Regions from separate parts of the Homo sapiens genome. Here region 2 is linked to region 1. Evidence: fine-mapped expression QTL. A gene starts in region 1. The other region holds a variant in brackets. All regions are shown on one strand. Distances are between the middles of the regions. Region 1 holds the start of WASHC5-AS1 (WASHC5 antisense RNA 1). Region 2 overlaps MTSS1 (MTSS I-BAR domain containing 1).

Evidence for each region. PIP is the estimated chance that this variant, and not a neighbour inherited with it, causes the effect.
Region 2: its variant is the best candidate, but not a certain one, in a credible set for the expression of WASHC5-AS1 in nucleus accumbens (GTEx, PIP 0.87).

What each region holds. Positions count from the first base shown.
Region 1 is chr8:125,038,671-125,043,068 of GRCh38, reverse strand. WASHC5-AS1 (WASHC5 antisense RNA 1) reads right to left here and starts at 2,385. Exons shown (of 2, transcript NR_170219.1): 1 at 2,290-2,385. WASHC5 (WASH complex subunit 5) reads left to right here. Exons shown (of 29, transcript NM_014846.4): 24 at 3,171-3,274; 25 at 4,110-4,239.
Region 2 is chr8:124,660,753-124,665,150 of GRCh38, reverse strand. All of the region lies in intron 3 of MTSS1 (MTSS I-BAR domain containing 1), which reads left to right. Among named protein-coding and RNA genes, the nearest start is that of MTSS1, 66 kb to the left of the region's middle. The variant T/C (reference allele first, on the strand shown) is at 2,318.

The DNA of each region.
Region 1 (4,398 bases):
CTTCCTGGTAGAAAACTGGTTTGTGGTCAAAAATATCACATACTGTAGAAAAGTCTAGAATTCTAGAATGCTAAGGGAATTTTGAAAAGTTCCATTCTCTGATTCCCAATTATATAAGTTTCTCATTGAGACAGCACTCATTGGTATCTTAGCCAAATTCACAATATATTTCCCATAATTTTGGTGAGTGGTTGTTGTTGTTGTTGTTGTTTGGATCATTAAACAGAACAGGTAAGGCAAGGAGCCCATGGCTCTGCTAGATATCCTCTCGTGATGTGGGTCTGCCTTCCCCTAGCCTCATGATTGTCAGATATTAAGCGCTTCCCAGGCCAAGTTTCTAATTGCTGGAAAACCCTTTAGGAGGAATAAAGAATCACCCGAGTTTGGACAGGTGTGAGTCCCAACTCTGTAGGAGGCGTTAGGGGGATTACAGGGATTCTTCCAAGAAACTGGAAGGTTTTCCCCTTGCTTACTGGAGGGTTCTCAGTCCAGTAGCTATTCCAACTATTGGTTATAGTTGCCAGTAATTCAGTAACAGCCACGTGACTGTGACCGAGTCAGTGATCTTTAAATAAAGCCCCAAAGGACAAATTTGTCTTTTTGTCTTGAATTAGGGTGCGTACAGTCACGGAGCCAGTGTTAATAATCTGGAACAACAATGGAAATGTTCTGTGCTATTCGATGATGACAGCAGCTCCTAGCCCTGTGTAGCTATTGAGCTCATGAAATGTGGGTTGTGGGACAGTGAAATGCAATTTTTAATTTTATTTCATATTAATTTAAATATAAATAGCCACACATCGCTAGGAGCTGCTGTACTCAATAGTGCAACTCTAGAAAAATCTTGGAGAAAGAGTGATAAGCCAGATATCTCCAAAGAGGCAAATGAGTAGGTAGAATAAGTTTCTCATCCATCCCAGGCTCCTTAGCCTCTTCAGCAGCTTATTAAAGCTTGAAGTGCGTGAGTACCAAAAATAGAAAATGTCACTAACAAAGATTCATTGTGCAGTAAACGAGAGCAAGTTATATTAAACTGACTTTATTTCTATTTCCAGTTCTAGATTGATATTTTCAAGAGGATCCTTGACACAGAGTATACTACACATAGAAAATTAAGCAAAGAATTATATGGGCCAGATACAGGGTTTCAGGGACATTTTTATGTGGCCTGAAAGAACCTACTATTTTCTTGGATTTGCTGCATTCTAATTTTTAAATAATGCTACTCTATAAATTCAAACACTTCCTATTTATAAATAGCATTTTTGGATTGACGTTTTTCACATAAATAGAGTAATAGTCTTGTATGAATAGTGGTCAAAAATAATACATCTGAGGTCATTTAATACTTTTGACCATTACAAGCTCCATTTAGCTAAGTAACTTTTGCTCATTCTTAGAGAAGGCCACCCTCCTTTTCTTTTTTTTTTGAGACAGTCTCACTCTGTCGCCTGGGCTGGAGTGCAGTGGCACAATCTTGGCTCACTGCAACCTCTACCTCCTGGGTTCAAGTGTTTCTCATACCTCAGCCTTCCAAGTATCTGGGATTACAGGTGTCCACCACCATACCCAGCTAATTTTTTTATTTTTAGTAGAAACAGAGTTTTACCATTTTGGCCAGGCTTGGTCTCGAACTCCTAGCCTCAAGCGATCAGCCTGCCTCGGCCTCCCAAAGTGCTGGGATTGCAGGCGTGAGCCCCTGTCTTTTCCTTAACTCTTCTCTGCCCCCAGCAACTCAGAGGAAATGCATTTATTTCCACCTTATTGCTGCTTGCATTATAATACTGTCTTCCCTCCTCTCCCCACCTCCCTCACTCCCCTTTGCCAGTCTTTTAGGAATACTTTGTCCGAGTAGAAAAGAAGACATTTATAGGCAGAAAAAGTTAGAGTGTGCTGTTGACCTTATGATGCAGACAACATTATGAGGGCAAACTGAACTCTCAAGCCTGACCCAAAGATCGCTTCCTATCATCCAACCATTGCAGATAATCTCCAAGTATCATTTATGCTCATAGCTACTTTTAAAGTACTGTAGTTAATACACCATCCTAGCATAACTCTATATCACAGATTTGTTCTTTGAATGGTTAATTATATTTCATTACAACTGGCTTCCACTGTTACCCTCTATGTTTTATTTTGTACATTCAAAAACGTTATTCTGAAATGGTGTCCATAGGCTTCACCAGATTCCCAAAGGGGTCCAAGGCTATATTAGTCAATTCTCACATAATAAAGACATACTCAAGACTGGGTAATTTATAAAGGAAAGAGGTTCGATTGACTCACAGTTCAGCATGGCTGTGGAGGCCTCAGGAAACTTACAACCATGGTGGAAGTGGAAGCAAACATGTCCTTCTTCACATGGCAACAGGAAAGAGAAATATAATCAAAAGGAGAAAAGCCTCTTATAAAACCATCAGATCTCGTGAGAACTCATCCACTATTACGAGAACAGTATGGAGGTAACCACCCCCATAATTCAATTACCTCCCACTGGGTCCCTCCCATGACACATGGGGATTATGGGAACTACAATTCAAGATGAAATTTGGGTGGGGGCACAGCCAAACCATATCAGACACACAAAAAAAATTAAGAACCCTGGATTAAGGGGCTATCATTGTTAAAATTTTCGTGAAAGATTTTATGTAGATTATTTTGTAATCCAGATAATTATAGAACCTATAATCCTGAGTGGCATGGACAGACTTAATATTCACCCAATTTGAGAATACTAGTGTGAAATGGCATTCCTAGAGCTTGAGAAAGTTCCATTTAGGATAAATAAAAGGAAGTAAGTAAGACTTCTCACAGCAGCTACTAAATTTGGAGCACTTATTCCAAAAGGTTAAAAATATAGCTTCAAAAAAGACATCTTTGATACATGAACAACTGAACATTAATAGATCACTTTGTGAATCATAGACTTTGGGGTATTTTTAGGTTGGGGTATGGGAATCCATCCAGACATTCCTTGAAGGGCCTCTGGTGCTTCATTAGATCCAGTGCTGGTCTTAGCCAAGAGATCAGTTCAGGAAATCCTTATTTTTTTTCCTGTAGAGTGATGTGAAGGCCCAGTGAAGAATTGTCATCTTTGTGTTTACCTCCTCACTGTCACTCTGAAATGCTTGAATGCACTACCTGTTCTTTCTCTTGCTTGTGCACAGGTTGGGCAGATGCAGATTCTGAGACAACAGATTGCCAATGAATTAAATTATTCTTGTCGGTTTGATTCTAAACATCTGGCAGCTGCTCTGGAGAATCTCAATAAGTAAGTGCCAGGGTTTGAAACAGCCATCCGTGGGCTTGGATTGTTTATTATCTACGCACCCCAGTTTCTTCAGTTCTTACTCTTTTAAGTTATTTTTGGGTGGAAGGTCTGAATTTACAGGCTTCCTTGCCACGGATAATCAAATCTGTCTTCGGAGCCTCTTTCCTCAGTATTGTCCCTCCGTTTATCTCTGTCTCTCACTCACTCTCTCTAATGGATTCGTGTATTCAGCAGACAGGTACTGATCACATGATTCAATACATGTCTGCTGAACAAATGAATTCATTAGAGAGAGCGAGTGAGAGACACACCAGACACTGCTAGATACTTGCACAGATTTTAGAAAGCAATTATTACCAAAATCCGCAACTGGCTTTTTACAGGGCTGATCACTCATCATCCAGAGGGCAGTTGGAAGTGTGTTGATTACCAAGAGTGGTTATGGAGGCCTGTCCTAGAGGGAACTCATATCCTCCGCCTCACCAGCAACCTGCTGTCATTTGAGGCTGCCTACTTACAGATAAATAATCTGTGCTTCTCACTCACCAAGTCAGTGCTTTTGACAAAGCAGGTATTAAGAACAGTTCAGTCAATACATGAAAATTTGAATGGTGAATGCATTTGATTGAGGTTGATTCCAAAAGATGAAGTAATTCTAGGTCAAATTTTCCACTTAAAACCAATCACAGGCATGGTTGAGAATTAGCGAGATCAAGCTCTCATTTTACAGATGAGGAAACTGAGGCTTGAAAAGATTACATCACTGCCCTATATTAACTCTTGTATAAATTCATTTACTCACTAATGTTTATCTCCAGGGTTTTTCTTCCTTTAGGGCTCTCCTAGCAGACATTGAAGCCCACTATCAGGACCCTTCACTTCCTTACCCCAAAGAAGATAACACACTTTTATATGAAATCACAGCCTATCTGGAGGCAGCTGGCATTCACAACCCACTGAATAAGGTGAGTAATTAAAATATATAATGGCGGGGATGGGGGTACAGAATGGTATTTGGCCCAGGTAACAGATTACTGTGCAGAAATACCAGAGGAACCTGGGTTCAGACCCCAGAGCCTTCATTCCATTCAGTTCCCTGCCCTTTCTAAGCAATCATCACACTT
Region 2 (4,398 bases), 380 kb after region 1:
CTGGTTACTGACCAGATTATCTGGTACAAACATTTATATTACAGCAAGTTACTTACCCTCTCCAAGCTTAGTGTTCATATGAATAAGATGGGGATAAAAAAAATGCTTATTTCCTCAAATCCAAGAACTATCAATTTAGTTGTACCTTTAGTTTATGTAGCACTAAGGAAAAAAAAAATCCTGCCAACTAAAATATGAAATGCCTTTCAGAGTTGTTAACATGTCGGGGGGAAAGAATGAACTGTAAAATGGATTCTAGGATTGGTCTTAGAAACAATGAAATAGAATAGTCTACTTCCTAGTGTTACTGTGAACAGTGCCAGATGTGTAGCAGTTGCTCACTGTATTTGATGATGAGGATGGTGGTGGTGACGGTGGTAGTGTTTGTGTAGAAGGAAACAGGCCTGGAGGCTGAAGCAACTATGACTTGATGTAAGCAAAAGCTACTAGTCAAGTGCTCTCGTTGCGGATTTTGCTATTTTAGAGTAGAGGGGTCTCCTGACACACAAGAGCCCTGTTGCCTGCAATTCTATGTTACCAGAGGCTGTGAGTGTGTATGCTTTTAGGTATAATATGACCAAGTGGTCATATGCCTATTTAAAACCTAAGGGGAAATGAAGGGCTCAATTTTAGAGTGTGGCTTCTAATCTTGTGTGCTCCTAAACTCTGGTCTACATACTCCCAACGATTAAAGAGACATTTTGCAACCTGAAATGGTTGGGTTCAGACTAGAATGCTTGGGTGCTACCAAATTAAAGGCCAGTAGGAAGCTACTTGGAGAAGCAGCCTCTGGCACTGTGGTAGAGGAGCATTTATCTAGAGACGGGCCTCGCTGGAAGGAGATAGCCACGCCTGTGTCTCAGGAGACTTTAATTAGGGCCATTGGCTTGGCTGCCCCATGATGACAGGTTGAACTTACGCCTGTGGTTCTAAGTCATGAAACCACCCCTGGGAACAGCCCAGCAGAACCATGGGTGGCACCTCCAAGGACTGGAGAGGGGGTAGCCCTGCAGGCGCTGGCTTCTGCCTGCTGGCTTCCAGCTGCTCCCTCCTGGGGTTCCCCACCTGGACCTCACCTGCTTCTCCTGCTGAAGTGTCTTCTCACCGACCTGGGCACAGGTTACTTCTGTGCTGTGCTTTGCTTTATTTCTCCTTTGTCTGCAGACACCACTGGGCCAGCACCAGTCCATCCCGGGTTTTTAGACTCGAACTGAGGTGTCATCTCCTGAGGAGCCCCTGTGATCTGCGCTCCTCTCTGTGCTCCGTGATGCCCTAGGCTTCTCTCTGTCATGGCGTTTCCTGTCCTAACTTTCTGTCTATGTGTGTGTCTCTGCCCTCCTTGAGGAATGGGACCACGTCTTACTCATCTTTGTATTCACTGTGCTTTTCCTGTAGGAGGCCATTTACAAAAGGACACGGGAATGGACAGAGGGGCAAAATATCGAAAGCTGATATTTGGAGGGTCTGCAGAGGAGGTGGGAGGAGGATGGCTTTTCTAAGTATCCTCAGGAATAAGGAGCCACATATGCAGGGGAGCCAAGAAAGGGAAAAGGAAAATTTACAGAATCTATTGCTTTAAAGAGTGTGGGGAGAAAGGGGAGGTGGGACGGTTCTACTCTTGACCTTGGTGGGAGCATGGATTGGGCGGGTGGGGGTTCTGGGCTGATGATGCATGCCAAAGCTGGGTTTCCTAACTGGCCTCAGAGGCTTCCGATTTGAGGAAGGGGGATGGGAGGGCCGAGTGAGCACAGGGGTTGGTGGTTTTCCTCCCCTTCAGAGGACACGTGTCCTTGGCTTCATTTGTAGGTCTTTGCCAAGGTGTCTATGGGAAGCCTCCTTGAGCAAAGGGGCTCCAAGGCTGTGGACGTGTGTGTCTGTCAGTCTGTCTGTCTGTCTGTCTTAGCATGAGGTTTAGCAGGCAGCCTCAGGAAAAACTTACAGCCCGAAAGGGAGTGTCTGGCCATGCTGCTGGCACTCCCTCTTTTCCTAGAGACACGTGTGCAGGTGTCTGAGTGCAGGCTAAGTACAAGTTGCCCATTTCGGCTCCAGAACCCAGCCAGGCAGCTGTTGGCATAGCATCCCTGAGGGAGGTTTCAGCGTTGGGTGGGGAGTGGGGCCCAGATACTGATATCCAGTGTTCTCACCTGGCTAAAGGAGAGCAGCTGCCCCTTGGTTACCTGGAGAAAACAATCAGGAAAGGCTCGTGGTCACGTCTCGGTCCCTTGGATCATTAGGTAGTTGCCCTTGATTTCCGTGAGCTTTATCTGACTGCAAGGGTACATTACACGGTCCCCTTGGATACCACGACAATTGTACC[T/C]GGTCTGTTTCCTCCCAAGAATTTTGGAGGACTTTAAAATTTAACCCGTGGGAGGGCAGGGAGGGAAGTCTTGGTACTTACAAATAAAAAAGCATTACTGCCTTATTCTCCCACCCCCTCCCCCAATATTTACAAATATAATAAATAATAGCTTTCGTTTACTCTCTAGAGCAGGGGCTCTTCAATGTGGGAGTTTACCTCAGAATCACTTGGGTAGCTGTTTGACAGTACGTATGTCTAGACCCTGTCTTCAGAGGGTGCGTCAGGAGGCCTGGGGCAGAGCCCGGATCCTGAGTATTGGGGAAAGGCTCTCCAGGTAATTGTGATGGACACCCTAGACAGAGAACCACTGTGTTAGATGGAAAAGCTTCCTGGTGGCAGAGACTGAGGCCTCTCTTGGTGTCCTGTGCTGTGTATGGCATACAGTATTTTTTTTATTCAGAAGTATTTATTGAACATCTACTATGTGCCGGGCCCTGGAATACATTCGTATCACTGTTCTTGGTGCTCCTAGAGCCCTGGCGGAGGGGCCCTAATTGTGTTGGATGCCAAGAAACCAGATAGGCAGCTTCTATTCATTCTCAGTTGTCATTGGATTATGGTCTTCCTGAGTGGTGTGAGGTAGGCACCCGGAATTATAGCGTTGACGTTGTCCTCTTTCCCAAAAATTGAACATAGCTCACCAAGCAGGGGCCCCTGGAACGTTGTAGCACATGCGATCAATAGATCTAACATGCCACCCCTGCCTTTCCCATTAACTTTCAGGCTAAAGAGCTGAGCTTGGGACAAGACTGGGCTGGATCATTTCCCTTTCTCTTTAATCTAAAAAGAACCTGAAGCTGGCTACTTCCTTGGTGTTCATGGATGGGTGAGAGCCATCTTGAGCCTCTCCTATCTGCTAGACACAAAGGACGTGAAGATGAATGGAGCATGGCCCTCATACTTTACAAATATCATAGTCTAAGGGGAGTCAGAAATGCAGACAGATGTGGGCCGTACAGTGTGACAGGTCCTGAATGTATGCTGAGCAAACTGTGAACAGGCTGTCGCAGCTATGGTGAGTTGTGGGAAAGAGGGGAATCCTTTATGGGACAGTGCTGATTGGACTTCCCAGGTTCCTCCCTAGCCCCGGCCTTTGAGGGGTGGTGTTTGTAGCGGGTGGCTGACCAGGAAGGAAGCCTTACCACCCCTCACCTGGGCTGAGGAGGCTCTGCTTCGTGCCTCTCCCAGCAGTGTCTGCACCTTTGGCGTGGCTAGGACTCCACTACCTGACCCTGTGGCCTGTCCAGTTTTCAAGCTGATGGTCACACGTATCTTCCCAGCTGCGGGGCTCCTTTTGTGTTCACCTGAGACAATCGTAGCTTCTGTTTCTAAGAGCTAGTGCTTTGATCATGTTTTCATCAGAAAAACATGGTTCATGAACTTGCTCTTTGTCTAGATCCTGTAATAATCAGGTTGTGCAGGCATGAATTGTTAGTAAAAATTCATCAGTTTACAGAAAAAAAAAAAACCTAGAAGAAAATAAAGGGACACGTCTAACATTGGTGTTGTTTCTGGGTAGTGCGTGTATGGGGACCATTTTCCTAAGGTTTTTACTTTTCAGGTTATCCTTTCATTTTGGAAAAAGACGATAAATATTATTTCTTAAAACCTACATGTGTTGGTGAGCTGTTGTTACTGAAACCCTTTCCTCCAAGGATGAAGGTTCTGAATGATAAACTTTTTAATGATCACACTCATCCCACTGCCCTCTGGCATCTTATTGGTGGCTGGGTCTGGTTTTACTTTTCACTGAATGTTCCATTTTCTCTGTTGATTGACGATGGCCTCAGGGCCAAGAGGTGACTACTGTCAGAGGATACAGTGTGAACCAAATTGTGCGTGTGTGTACGTGTGCGTGGGAGGGTGTGTATGTGTGTTCCACTCGGACCTTGGGGCACAAGTCCCTCATCCTTTGCTCTTGTGGGAAGACACTGGACCAGGCTGCTTAGTATAGAGGAGAACCAGAGTATCACAGGGCACCCAGGAGGAAGAGAGGCATGGGAGAGTTGAGGGGCATTTCCATACTGCACTAGCATGAA